Regions from separate parts of the Homo sapiens genome. Here all the other regions are reported to be linked to region 1. The links are microRNA targets in miRTarBase. Many come from high-throughput screens and were not tested one by one. Region 1 holds a microRNA gene; each other region holds the end of a gene's coding sequence.
What was found. The annotated mature microRNA hsa-miR-519d-3p reads CAAAGUGCCUCCCUUUAGAGUG and lies in region 1 at 1,559-1,580, shown strand. An mRNA with a match to its seed (bases 2 to 7 or 8) in the 3' UTR can be bound and repressed. Matches are read on the target gene's strand: a 7mer-m8 pairs with bases 2 to 8, a 7mer-A1 pairs with bases 2 to 7 and ends in A, and an 8mer does both.

Region 1 (3,246 bases):
CCTCAGCCTCCCAAAGTGCTAAGATTACAGGCGTGAGCCACCACACATGGCCATTAACACCTTTTAGTCCATGGAAATTATTCTGGCACTGATTTATAAAGCCTCATGTGGGGTCAGGTAGAGTCAAAGGGGGACCTCAGTGTCCCTTGCAGATGGGATGTGCTCAGCAAGAGCACGGAGGTGGAGTGCATGGGGTTTGAGTTTTCACTGGGGAAATGAAACCAACATCTTGGGTGCATGACCAGGTCATATATGCAGTCATATATGCAATATGCATGGTGGTGGGTGCCTCTAATCCCAGCTACTCAGGAGGCTGACGCAGAAGAATCGCTTGAACCCAGGAGGCAGAAGTTGCCATGAGCCGAGATCCCACCACCGCATCCAGCCTGGGCGGCAGAGTGAGACTCCGTGTCAAAAAAAAGAAGATCTCAGGCAGTGACCCTCTAGATGGAAGCACTGTCTGTTGTATAAAAGAAAAGATCGTGCATCCCTTTAGAGTGTTACTGTTTGAGACAAGCAACGTTGAAGATGCTGCTGATCTTGGTAATACATTTGCAGAGCGTGCTTATCATCAGACTTGCATGATGTCGGGGTTCTGTTTGTGATTTGAAATTTTTCCAAGACAGGCTTTCTATTGCCCAGGCGTGGGTGGATAGCACCTTCCACCAAGATTTCTTGGGCTTAAGTGGTCCTCTTTTTATTTTTTGATTTTTTGAGACACACTCTTGTTTCGTTGGGAGTGCAGTAGCAGGATCTCTGCTCACCGGAAACTCCACCTCTCGGGTTCCAGTGATTCTCCCACCTCAGCCTGCCGAATTGTTGGGAATTCAGGCATCAGGCACCCACCATCGTGTCCTGCACTCTTGCTGCCCATCCTGGAGAGCACTGGCATGATCTAGGCTCACTGCAACCTCCGCCTCCTGGGTTCGAGTGATGCTTCTGCCTCAGCCTCCCAGGTAGTTGGGATTACAGGCACCTACTGCCCCACCCAGCTAATTTTTATGTTTTTAGTAGAGACGGGTTTCACCATGTTGGCCAGGCTAGTCTTGAACTCCCGCTTTCAGGTGATCCACTAGCCTGTGGTCTATCCTGGAGGATGTTTGTGTGTGTGACAATGTATATTCTTCAACATCTTAGACTCCATTTTGGATGCTCCCATCGGAACTATGTATCCCTGTGCTGGAACTCAAGTGAACACTCAGCTCAAAGTCCATTGCTGTTCTCTAGAAATCCAGCCCAGTTCTCTTGGTTAAATATAAGGTATGTGTAGTAGGCATTGCTTTTTCTCTTTAGAGGCAAAACTCAGGAGGGTTGCCCCTTGATGAACAAGGCTAACCTGCAGAGCCTTTGAAGAAAGGAACTGGAGATGGTCCTTTTAGGGGTTTATGTTCTGGATTCTAGAAAACAGGCAAACAGGGCCAATAAATGCATCTTTATTGTTGTGGCCATTTTAACCTGGTCAAGGAAGATTTCAACAAAAAACCCAGAGTGCTGGAGCAAGAAGATCCCATGCTGTGACCCTCCAAAGGGAAGCGCTTTCTGTTTGTTTTCTCTTAAACAAAGTGCCTCCCTTTAGAGTGTTACCGTTTGGGAAAAGCCACGTTGAAGATGATGCTGATCTTGGTAATACATTTGCAGACCATGCTTGTAATCAGACTTGGATGATGTTGGGAGTCTGTTTTTTTGTTTGTTTGTTTGGTTGGTTTTTTTGTTTGTTAGGTTTTTGTTTTTTGTTTTGGTGTGTGTGTTTTGTTTTGTGTTTTTTTTTTTTTCTAAGACAAGGTCTCTGTTGCCCAGGAGAGACTAGAGAAGCACTTTTTAAGATAGGCCTGTTGGGCTCAGATGGTCCTTTTATGGGATACAGTCTTGCTCTGTGACCCAGACTGGAGTGCAGTGGCGCGATCTTGGCTCAATGCAACCTCCACCTCCCGGGTTCGAGTGATTCTCCTGCCTCAGCTTCCTGGGTAGCTGGGATTACAGATGCCTGACATCACACTCGGCTAATATTTGTATTTTTCTTTTTTATTCATTCATTCATTTTTGAGATGGAGTGTTGCTGTCACCCAGCCTGGAGGGCAGTGGCATGATCCCGGCTGACTCCAACCTCTGCCTCTCAGGTTCAAGCCATTCTCCTGCCTCAGTCTCCTGAGTAGGTGGAATTACAGGCACCCACCACTACAACCAGCTACTTTTTGATTTTGATTTTTTTTTTTTTTTTTTTTTTTTAGTAAAGGTGGGGTTTCACCATGTTGGCCAGGCTAGTCTCAAACCCCTGACCTCAAGTGAGCCGCTGGCCTCGGCCTCCCAAAGTGCTGAGAATACAGGCGTGAGCCACCGGGCACAGCCATCAGCACCTTTTACTTTATGGAAATTTTTCTGGCACTGGTATAGAACCTCACGTGGGGTCAGGTGGAGTTGAGGGGACCTCAGTGTCCCTGCAGATGGGATGAGCAAGAGCACGGAGGTGGAGTGCATGGGGCTTCAGTGTTTATTGGGGAAATGAAGCTGAAATCTGGGTGCATGACCAGGAGATAAATGCATGAGACGGCGGTCTCACTATGCTGCCCTGGCTGAAGTGGGCTTAGATCCTCCTGCCTCTGCCCCTCCCCAGTCCTTGGTAGATGGGACCACATGTGAATATTAACCCCCCATGCACAGACAAGAAGAAAGTAAGGACTGTTCTTTGGTTCATACCTGACCCCAGTTAAACTTGTATTTTAGATAAACAATGTATTTGAGATGTACTTGAACAACAAACGATTTGCTGTTCAGGTGTGGGCATCTTTGTTTTGTTTTTTTTTTTCCTAATTTTAAATATGGGACTAGTGTGCATATGGTGGCTCTTGTCTGTAATTCCTGCACTTTGTGAGGCTGAGACAGGAGGATCACCTGAGATCAGTTGTTCGAGACCAGCCTGGCCAACATGAAGCCAGGAGGCTGAGCTTTCAGTGAGCTGAAATCTTCTGCTGCACTCCACCCTGGGCAACAGAGTGAGACTCAGTCTCAAGAAAGTAAAAAATAGGCCGGGCGCGGTGGCGCATGCCTGTAATCCCAGCACTTTGGGAGGCCGAGACGGGAGGATCACCTGAGGTCAGGAGTTCAAGACCAACAGGGCCAACATGGCAAAGCCTCGTCTCTACTAAAAATACAAAAATTAGCTGGGTGCAATGGTGCACATCTGTAATTCCAGCTACTCCGGAGGCTGAGGCAGGAGAATCCCTTGAACCCAGGAGGAGGAGATTTCAG
Region 2 (3,000 bases), not on the chromosome of region 1:
CCTTTCCACTGAATAATATTCTGAGTGAGAAGCTAGTGAGAGCTAATGTTACATTTGGTTTTTCCTCCCCAGATACAGGTTTGACCCCCGTCTCATGTTCAGCAATCGCGGCAGTGTCAGGACTCGAAGATTTTCCAAACATCTTCTGTAGCGACCTCACACAGCCTCTGCAGATGGATCCCTGCACGCCTCTTTCTGATGAAGTGATTGTAGTAGGTGTCTGTAGCTAGTCTTCAAGACCACACCTGGAAGAGTTTCTGGGCTGGCTTTAAGTCCTGTTTGAAAAAGCAACCCAGTCAGCTGACTTCCTCGTGCAATGTGTTAAACTGTGAACTCTGCCCATGTGTCAGGAGTGGCTGTCTCTGGTCTCTTCCTTTAGCTGACAAGGACACTCCTGAGGTCTTTGTTCTCACTGTATTCTTTTTATCCTGGGGCCACAGTTCTTGATTATTCCTCTTGTGGTTAAAGACTGAATTTGTAAACCCATTCAGATAAATGGCAGTACTTTAGGACACACACAAACACACAGACACACCTTTTGATATGTAAGCTTGACCTAAAGTCAAAGGACCTGTGTAGCATTTCAGATTGAGCACTTCACTATCAAAAATACTAACATCACATGGCTTGAAGAGTAACCATCAGAGCTGAATCATCCAAGTAAGAACAAGTACCATTGTTGATTGATAAGTAGAGATACATTTTTTATGATGTTCATCACAGTGTGGTAAGGTTGCAAATTCAAAACATGTCACCCAAGCTCTGTTCATGTTTTTGTGAATTCTAGGCTGGTGCTGCACTGAAATAGAGCAGTAAGCTTGTGATAAAGGCCAATTCCAGGTAGCTCTTGAAGGTGATAGCCATCTACTTTCCAGTGGCTGCCAACCACAGGGAGTGCCAGTTAACACTGGAAGGATTAAGGCAAGGTCCCTTCTCTTGAGACTCCCCTCTGAGATCTGAAAAATGAAGTGGCTTAGGAACATCAGCAGTGAAGAACTGCCAAGAGTTGGTGAAGGTTGTCTCTTCCGAGGGCCTTCTGAAGACAGGGCTCTTGAACAGACAAGTGGAAGGGCTGTACCAGGGATAAAGGAAAGAAGTGCCTGTCCAGCAGGGAGCTTGAATTTAAGTTCCATGTATGAAGTCATTGGCTCTATCTGCATTTTTCTGTCATTCTCTTCATTTGTTTTAAGGTGGAAAATTTTCTTACAGTTGATGCAAAGTATCAACTACTTTACCCTACCTTCTCCCCTTTTAGATGGGTTCTTCCTGAGTTTTGGAGTCTTGTATGATTATCAGTATTCCCCTGTCAAAATCAAATCTATTCAGGTTTCTTCACTGTTGAGAACACCTAAATGTTTTTATTTTTGAGAAGTGGGGACAGAGTCTCACTATGTCACCCAGGCTGGAGTGCAATGGCATGATCTCAGCTCACTGCAACCTTCGCCTCCTGGGTTCAAGCGATTCTCCTGCCTCCGCCTCCTGAGTAGCTGGGATTATAGGCACGCACCACCACGCCCAGCTAATTTTTTGTATTTTTAGTAGAGACAGAGTTTCACCATGTTGGCCAGGCTGGTCTTGAACTCCTGACCTTGTGATCCACCCACCTCGGCCTCCCAGAGTGCTGGGATTACAGGCATGAGCCACCACGCTTGGCTAAGAACACCTAAATTTTTATGTTTCTTGGCTCAAAAACCAGTTCCATTTCTAATGTTGTCCTCACAAGAAGGCTAATTGGTGGTGAGACAGCAGGGGAGGAGGAAGAGCTGTGGTTTGTAACTTGTTCAACTCAGGCAATAAGCGATTTTAGCTTTATTTAAAGTCTTCTGTCCAGCTTTAAGCACTTTGTAAGACATGGCTGAAAGTAGCTTTTCTATCAGAATTGCAGATAGTCATGTTGGGCTAACAGTCAATTGGATATATTCCTTTACCTCACATGACCCCAGCAACTGTGGTGGTATCTAGAGGTGAAACAGGCAAGTGAAATGGACACCTCTGCTGTGAATGTTTTAGAGAAGGAAATTCAAAAAATGTTGTAACTGAAAGCACTGTTGAATATGGGTATCGGCTTTCTTTTTCACTTTGACTCTTAACATTATCAGTCAACTTCCACATTAATGAAAGTTGACCATAGTTATTTCCAAATAAAAAGAAACCAACTCTTACCAGGTCTTGGACTGTGATGTCATATTATTCAGTTTTATGCTTGTTCCTGAGCAGAACTCATAAGAGTGACATAGTCAGCTGCTGACGGCACCTCAGCCACGCCACTCTTACTCAGTTCAGTGGGTGTGCTTGCGTGGTAGGATGTGGTGCAGCCCTCTCTACGCTCTTCTATTTTTGGTATATTTCCTATCTAACCTTCAAATAGCTTCCAATTCTTTTTTTCTTGGACTGGCTTCATTCTGAATTTGTGCTAAAATAATCTTTCATAAAGAGACCTCAGTTTATAGCGTAACAGACTACACAATGCACTGATGTTTTCATAATGTTTAAGGGACCCACTGCAAGAAGCTTGCTGCCTCCTTTTAATTGTATTCATTTAGATTTTGATTTTCCATGTTAAGAAGGTGAGGTCCATGTTGGTGCCCTTCAGAGTAGAGAACCATGTAAACATTAGGAATGAACAGAGGCCTTAGGAATGAATAGAGAGTTTGCCTTATACAATTTCCTGTTACAAAGCTCTCCCTCTCATGCAAAGTAGGGAACACCTTTTGAGCATCTTTGAATTTGACAAATGGTGCTGTTGCAAACACTTTTTTTTTGAGATGAAGTCTCGCGGTTGTCACCCGGGCTGGAGTGCAGTGGCGTGATCTCGGCTCACTGCAACTTCCACCTCCTGGGTTCCAGCAGTTCTCCTGCCTCAGCCTCCCAAGTAGCTGAGATTACAGGCGCCTGCCACCCCACCTGGCTGATTTTTGTAATTTTAGTAGAGACGGGGTTTCACCATGTTGGCCAGGCTGATTAACTCCTGACCTCAGGTGATCCACCTTTCTCGGCCTC
Region 3 (3,000 bases), not on the chromosome of region 1:
CTTTTAGGAGATACAACAGGCTTATAGTTCTCTGTCAAACTCTTAGTTGTTAATAGCTTTAGTACTGTCATTCATGAGACACAACTCCTAAGAGAAAACAAAGAAAAGGCCAATCACGTAAGATCTTGTTAACTCAAGACTGTGACATAATGACCCCAAATAAAAACAATTTTTAATTAACTCACAGTAGAAAACACCAATAAAACAACTCTCTAATTTCCACTAGTTTACTGCAGCCCAATGAAGTTGATTACATACATCAGTCATTCAATTGGAGTAATTTTTTCCTACAAATTTGTTCCAGAGATCATGCCATAAGCCTGGTTAAGTAAAAGAATGATGAAAATGCCAAAGTTCTATCAAGTAAGCAAATATTCTCTTTCGTGTGGCAGACAGAACTCTGGAAGAAACAGAATGCATGTCATGTAATACTTACATTTAAGGCTCAGGTGACTGTCAGAAAGTATTTCTTTTACCCAGCAAAGAACTGTGAGCTGAAACACAAATGGCAGTTCATCTGAAAGAACTAAAACCATCCACTGGCTGCACATTGAAAAAGCAATAAATAATGACACAGAAAACAAAAGAAATTGCATAATTCTTTCCTCGAAAATGCTTTTTTTTTTCTTCACAAGAGCAGAAAGGACAAAGTGGAAAGTCAAACCAAACTAACATTTTAAACAGAAGAATGATATGACTCCATATACTTTCAAAAGGCACCAGAAAATAAAGCTTTCACTGATAGGTAAATTAGGTCATTTTTTTTTTCCAAAATAATTTCTTCATTCTCATGTCATAATTAAGTGTCCATTTGACAGCTCCTGAGAAAAAAACTGGTTCAAAGTTCTTTATCCAAAGCCAAAAACATGATTGATTAAATGGATATTTTGGAGTTCGTTCATGTCTTTTCTCTCTAAAGATTGTGTTTTGGGAGACTAGCTTCCACATAAGTACTTAAAAAATGGAAAAAGAGGATCATCGATAAATGAGAGAAGAGTCTATATTCGTTGATGGGTGAGTGTTTTGTTTTGTTTTGTTTTTTGAGGCAGAGTCTCGCTCTGTCGCCCAGGCTGGAGTGCAGTGGTGCGATCTCGGCTCACCACAACCTCCGCCTCCCAGGTTCAAGTGATTCTTCTGCCTCAGCTTCCCGAGTAGCTGGGACTTCAGGCACGCACCACCATGCCCAGCTAATTTTTGTATTTTTTGTAGAGACAGGGTTTCACCATATTGGCCAGGCTGGTCTCAAACTCCTGACATCATGATCTGCCTGCCTCAGCCTCCCAAAGTGCTGGGATTACAGGTGTGAGCCACTGTGCCCAGCCGAGTGTTTTAAAATCAGCTATCCCTACATCCACTGCTGATTCATTTAGTATCAAATCAGTAGCCTTATCCTTGGGGCCCAACTGAAGAGCCTCCTACGGCTCCAGTGCATAGGTCCTTGCGTAGGGAGGCTGATACAAGTAAGCTGACACTTGTAAGAGCAATGGGATTAACTACATGATTCTCCAGCACTGATAACACCCATAAAACTGTAGGGAATTAAAAAGGCACCTTAAGTTGGAGCTATAGAATAACAGTCTTATAACCTAGGTTGAAAGTAAAACAAAAACCAGAAAAAAGCATAACTTCCTACAAATGTAATCTATAAATTGCAGTGTTTGTTAATACAAAAAAGGTACCAAGGACGTAAGGATAAGCATCTAAGTCCAAGTCACTTGAGTGTATTTTATCAAAGGTTATGCTAAAAACTGTCACCCATAAAAGTGCAAAATAAAAGATTAATGCATGTCAAAAATAGAGTTCTTGCAACATTGTCCAAAAGCAGCAAACATAGTTGAACAAGGCTGTGCATGCACTGTCACTAGCTATAAAGTAATGCTTATGACAGATTTTGAGTAAATGACATATACTTGAGATCAGTTATTTGCAAAAATTTTTTTAAAAAAGGAAATGTCTTACAAAAGATATATAGCATGAAGTCACATTACACTGAAGAACACTTATCTGTATTAAATGTAAATTTTATGTCATCTAGAAAACTATCATTTTGCTTTTACTGAACACTACCAGTTACAGCAGTGCATAGTGTTCATTCAAATAAAACTTTATAGTTTCTTTTAAGCCCCTACCATACACTTTTGCAAAACAATGAATTGTACTTTTTTTTTTTAAGTTGGTGGGACAAAGAAACTGGTAAAAGTACAGCTTCTGGAAGATCGAGAGTAGGAGGGAAAACTTACTCTTCACTGTATATGCCCTCTTATAAGCTACTATAATTTTTCATCATGTGATGCATTTTCAAATAAATTTAATAAAAAATTGTTAGGGCAATAAAGTAAAAGCATGTTCCAGTTTAAGATCAATGCCAAATTTCTGAACTGGGGCATAATACTTACTCTGCATCTTTTACAACACTTCTAAGAGTTAATCACATGAACATGAATACAAACAAATGTAGATTCATCACAAAATACAAATGTATTGGTCACAATTATGTAGAAAAAAATAAGCTGTAATATCTGTTTTCAATGTAAGCTCACAGTATCTGTACTCAAAGTTTCTCTAAAATTAAAACAAGTCCACTAACAATATAATTGAAAAGAATACTTCTGCATTATGAAACAGAAGATATGGGGTTCAGAGGGGAGCCCATCTGAGTAAGGACTTTATCCAGCCACTGAAGAGGCCCATGAAGATGAATCTCAATCCAACATGGGGTGCTGGTTACATCCTGCCGGTGATATTCTGCTCCCCAACCCTATGAAAATGAACAGATATCATCACAAATCCCTCTTTAAACTGTCAACCACTCTAAACCAATTTTACCATAAGAAAAAGATAGCTTTTAACAGTAGAGATATGTAGAAGTTACATAAAGAGAATAACTATCACAAAACCAGTCTTAGTATTCACCATGAAATTAAAAGACAACAGCTACATTATTTAAAGATTCATGAATTCTAAAATAATATATAATTCCCTTAAAAGAAACCCTTAGAG
Region 4 (3,000 bases), not on the chromosome of region 1:
TCTCCAAGGAGCCTCATTTCCCACCTGTATATGTAGGGATTCTCCTATGAGCAGGCTGGACCCATTGCTAGGCCGTGACACTGGTGGTTTCTAAGAACCTGGGTCACACGGCTATCTCAACAATGGGCCAAGAGAACACTGTACATGTGACCTATCAGGTGGACCACAAATGCCCAAGATGCAAGTTTGTCCTGCCTGAGCAGAGCAGAAGCTCTACAAAGCCTGGAGTTTCATTCTGAGAAGTGGCCTGGCTGGCTCTCCTGCCTGTGCTCATCCCACAGGTCCCAGCAGCGGTCAGAAATCACACAACCCCCATGAGACTGTGGAAATGGCAAGATGGCAGGGAATCCAGCACCACTGAGCAACTATTCTGTGCTGCTGGGAATGCTGAACCAGCCTGTCCCGTGACGCCAATCTCTTATTGTGCTTTATATTCCTAGTACCTGACCTACGGGTTGATACAGCAGGTATCCAATAAGCACTAAATTAACAAGCAGTTGTTAATTGCTAAGTCGTCATCTGATTTTTATCAAAAGAAAAAAAAACCGGTCAGGCTCACGCCTATAATCCCAGCACCTTGGGAGGCCAAGGTGGGCGGATCATGAGGTCAGGAGATCGAGACCATCCTGGCTAACACGGTGAAACCCTGTCTCTACTAAAAATACAAAAATTAGCTGGGTATGGTGGCATGCGCCTATAGTCCCAGCTACTCGGGAGACTGAGGCAGGAGAATCACTTGAACATGGGAGGCGGAGCTTGCAGTGAGCTGAGATTGCACCACTGCACTCCAGCCTGGGCAACACAGCAAGGCTCTGTCTAAAAAAAAATAAAAATAAAAATAAAGAAAAAAGAAAACCACTTCCACCTACAAGTACTGCTACCGCTTTGCCCATTTGAGGGCACCCAGCTTCATAACTAGAAAGAGAAGTTTACCAACCATAAAAGTATCCCGTCATATATTCCAAATTCAAATACACGATTTTACTTGTTTTTAGTCATTGTTCTTTGAGAAAATAACCAAGAAGGAACACACTTGCAAATGAACATGCTGGCTGAGTTTTACACATTTGCATAGTTCCGCAGATGTTAACAACTCTGCATGTATAGAAAACAACCATACATTCATCCACTGTTAGAAACCAAGTAGGTGGAGCCTTCTCTACACAGCTGCTAGATCTCATTTAGAAACAGAGTTAAAGCAGAGAATTCTTTTTTTTGAGACAGAGTCTCGCTCTGTTGCCCAGGCTGGAATGCAGTTGTGCAATCTCGGCTCACTGCAAGCTCTGCCTCCCGGGTTCACACCATTCTCCTGCCTCAGCCTCCTGAGTAGCTGGGACTACAGGCGCCCACCACCTTGCCTGGCTAATTTTTTGTATTTTTAGCAGAGATGGAGTTTCACCGAATTAGCCAGGATGATCTCGATCTCCTGACCTTGTGATCTGCCTGCCTCGGCCTCCCAAAGAGCTGGGATTACAGGCGTGAGCCACCGCGCCCGGCCAGAGAATTCTTATTGGGATGTTACGTCTCACTAACTTTATCTCAAAATTGGTTCTTTTATTCAAGATGTAGATTACTTTCAGGAGTTGTCAAAAACATCATTGAACTAGTTTCTTTTTCTGTAAGAAACAGCCAATCAAGTTGGCCAAAAAATGACCATAGGCTTTTGGAAAGTCTCATCTTGAGGCCAAATGGGTAGCTATTTGATTCAGTTACATGATCACACACTGCCAAAGAGTCAACATTAAAGTCCATTATATAATCCCTTTAAATGGCAATACTAGATTTAGACGCTTTACAGACTATGTTTTTTTCAATCTTCACAACAAACCCAGGGGAAATAACGTTTTCTTTTTGTAAATGAGGAAATGGAGGTTCTCAGAGCTGACATAGCCTGCTCAAGATTCTAACTAAAAAGTGGGAAAGCCAGAATTCAAATCCAAGTTTCACTATGTTACACTGCCTCAGATGATAAAGTGGTCATTACACTGCTCAGAAAGAAAAACGAGAATTTTTACAAGTTACTACAATAGAACTGTTTTATTAAACATATGACTGTATTTATTTTGTACAAAATGCAGTAACACTTCTTCTTTTCCTCTGCCCCTGGAGGCACTACCGCAGAACTTCATGTTCACAGAAACACACGTCATGGCAAGTGTGTCAAAAAGTCATGACAAGCAGGAAAGTGCAATTCTGAAAGTAATGCCACACAACCAAAGTGGGAAATGAAAACAGGCAGAGGCCAGCAGGTTTCTCGGCTAGGGCTCTGCCTATAACGCCCTGGTCCTGCTCATCTTTCAGCAGTAAACATTTTAAGAAGAGAAACTCCTGAGCACTATGTAAGTACTCTCCTGGTAGCATCCTTCCAATTCCATCTATCTTGATGTTGTAACAAGCTTATTTGTAACTTCCTCAAGAAATCCCACCCTGGATTGCATCCCTGTCAATTGCCCATCTCCCTCTGAGCTTCAAACAAAACAAAATAAAACAGAAGAGCAGTAAGTTTCAAAAGGAAGTCAGAGGAGACATTTGATAGATGAAACCTACTTCCTAGAAGCCCCCTGGCCAGACATATGCAGAGCTGGAGACAACAGATTGTGAAACTAGGTCCAGCTGTAAAATATCTCAGGTACCCAGTTAGATCCAGTTATTCTGCATCTGTGGATTTAAAATGGTCATCATCCACAGTAGAATAGATGTGCCCCTCATTGCTCAGAAAATCCACAGCTTGCCTAGAAAGAAAGAAGAAAAAAAAAAGGTCATTTTCAGGCCAATTCAGAAGGAAACTGCCTTTTGGATATGGCCAAATATGCAAACTTCGCTTATCTCCCAACTTTCTACCTTAGCTAAGAATTCACAAGTATTCTGCACATAGAAAGCTCTCACAGGGAGAAATGCCAGTAAAATAGCAAAACAGAGCTTATTCATGGAGACAATGGCTATTAGGGCTGTCTTGGATCCCTCTCCCAAATTGTGCAAAGGAAAGACAACAGGGCCTCA

Region 2: the mRNA of GNS is a reported target of hsa-miR-519d-3p. Seed matches in the 3' UTR shown: 7mer-m8 at 1,838-1,844.
Region 3: the mRNA of SMAD5 is a reported target of hsa-miR-519d-3p. Seed matches in the 3' UTR shown: 7mer-m8 at 1,761-1,767 and 7mer-m8 at 1,283-1,289.
Region 4: miRTarBase lists RPA2 as a target of hsa-miR-519d-3p. Seed matches in the 3' UTR shown: 7mer-m8 at 2,183-2,189.

The regions. Positions count from the first base shown.
Region 1 is chr19:53,711,842-53,715,087 of GRCh38, forward strand. It overlaps MIR519D (microRNA 519d), which reads left to right and starts at 1,506; the gene lies at 1,506-1,593. MIR517A (microRNA 517a) reads left to right here and starts at 427; the gene lies at 427-513.
Region 2 is chr12:64,713,892-64,716,891 of GRCh38, reverse strand. GNS (glucosamine (N-acetyl)-6-sulfatase) reads left to right here. Exons shown (of 14, transcript NM_002076.4): 14 at 73-3,000. The coding sequence ends at 151. Among named protein-coding and RNA genes, the nearest start is that of GNS, 44 kb to the left of the region's middle.
Region 3 is chr5:136,177,095-136,180,094 of GRCh38, reverse strand. It overlaps SMAD5 (SMAD family member 5), which reads right to left. Exons shown (of 8, transcript NM_005903.7): 8 at 1-2,758. The coding sequence ends at 2,615. Among named protein-coding and RNA genes, the nearest start is that of SMIM32, 15 kb to the left of the region's middle.
Region 4 is chr1:27,889,516-27,892,515 of GRCh38, forward strand. It overlaps RPA2 (replication protein A2), which reads right to left. Exons shown (of 9, transcript NM_002946.5): 9 at 2,009-2,732. The coding sequence ends at 2,648. Among named protein-coding and RNA genes, the nearest start is that of THEMIS2, 18 kb to the left of the region's middle. RefSeq lists a silencer at 1,250-1,319.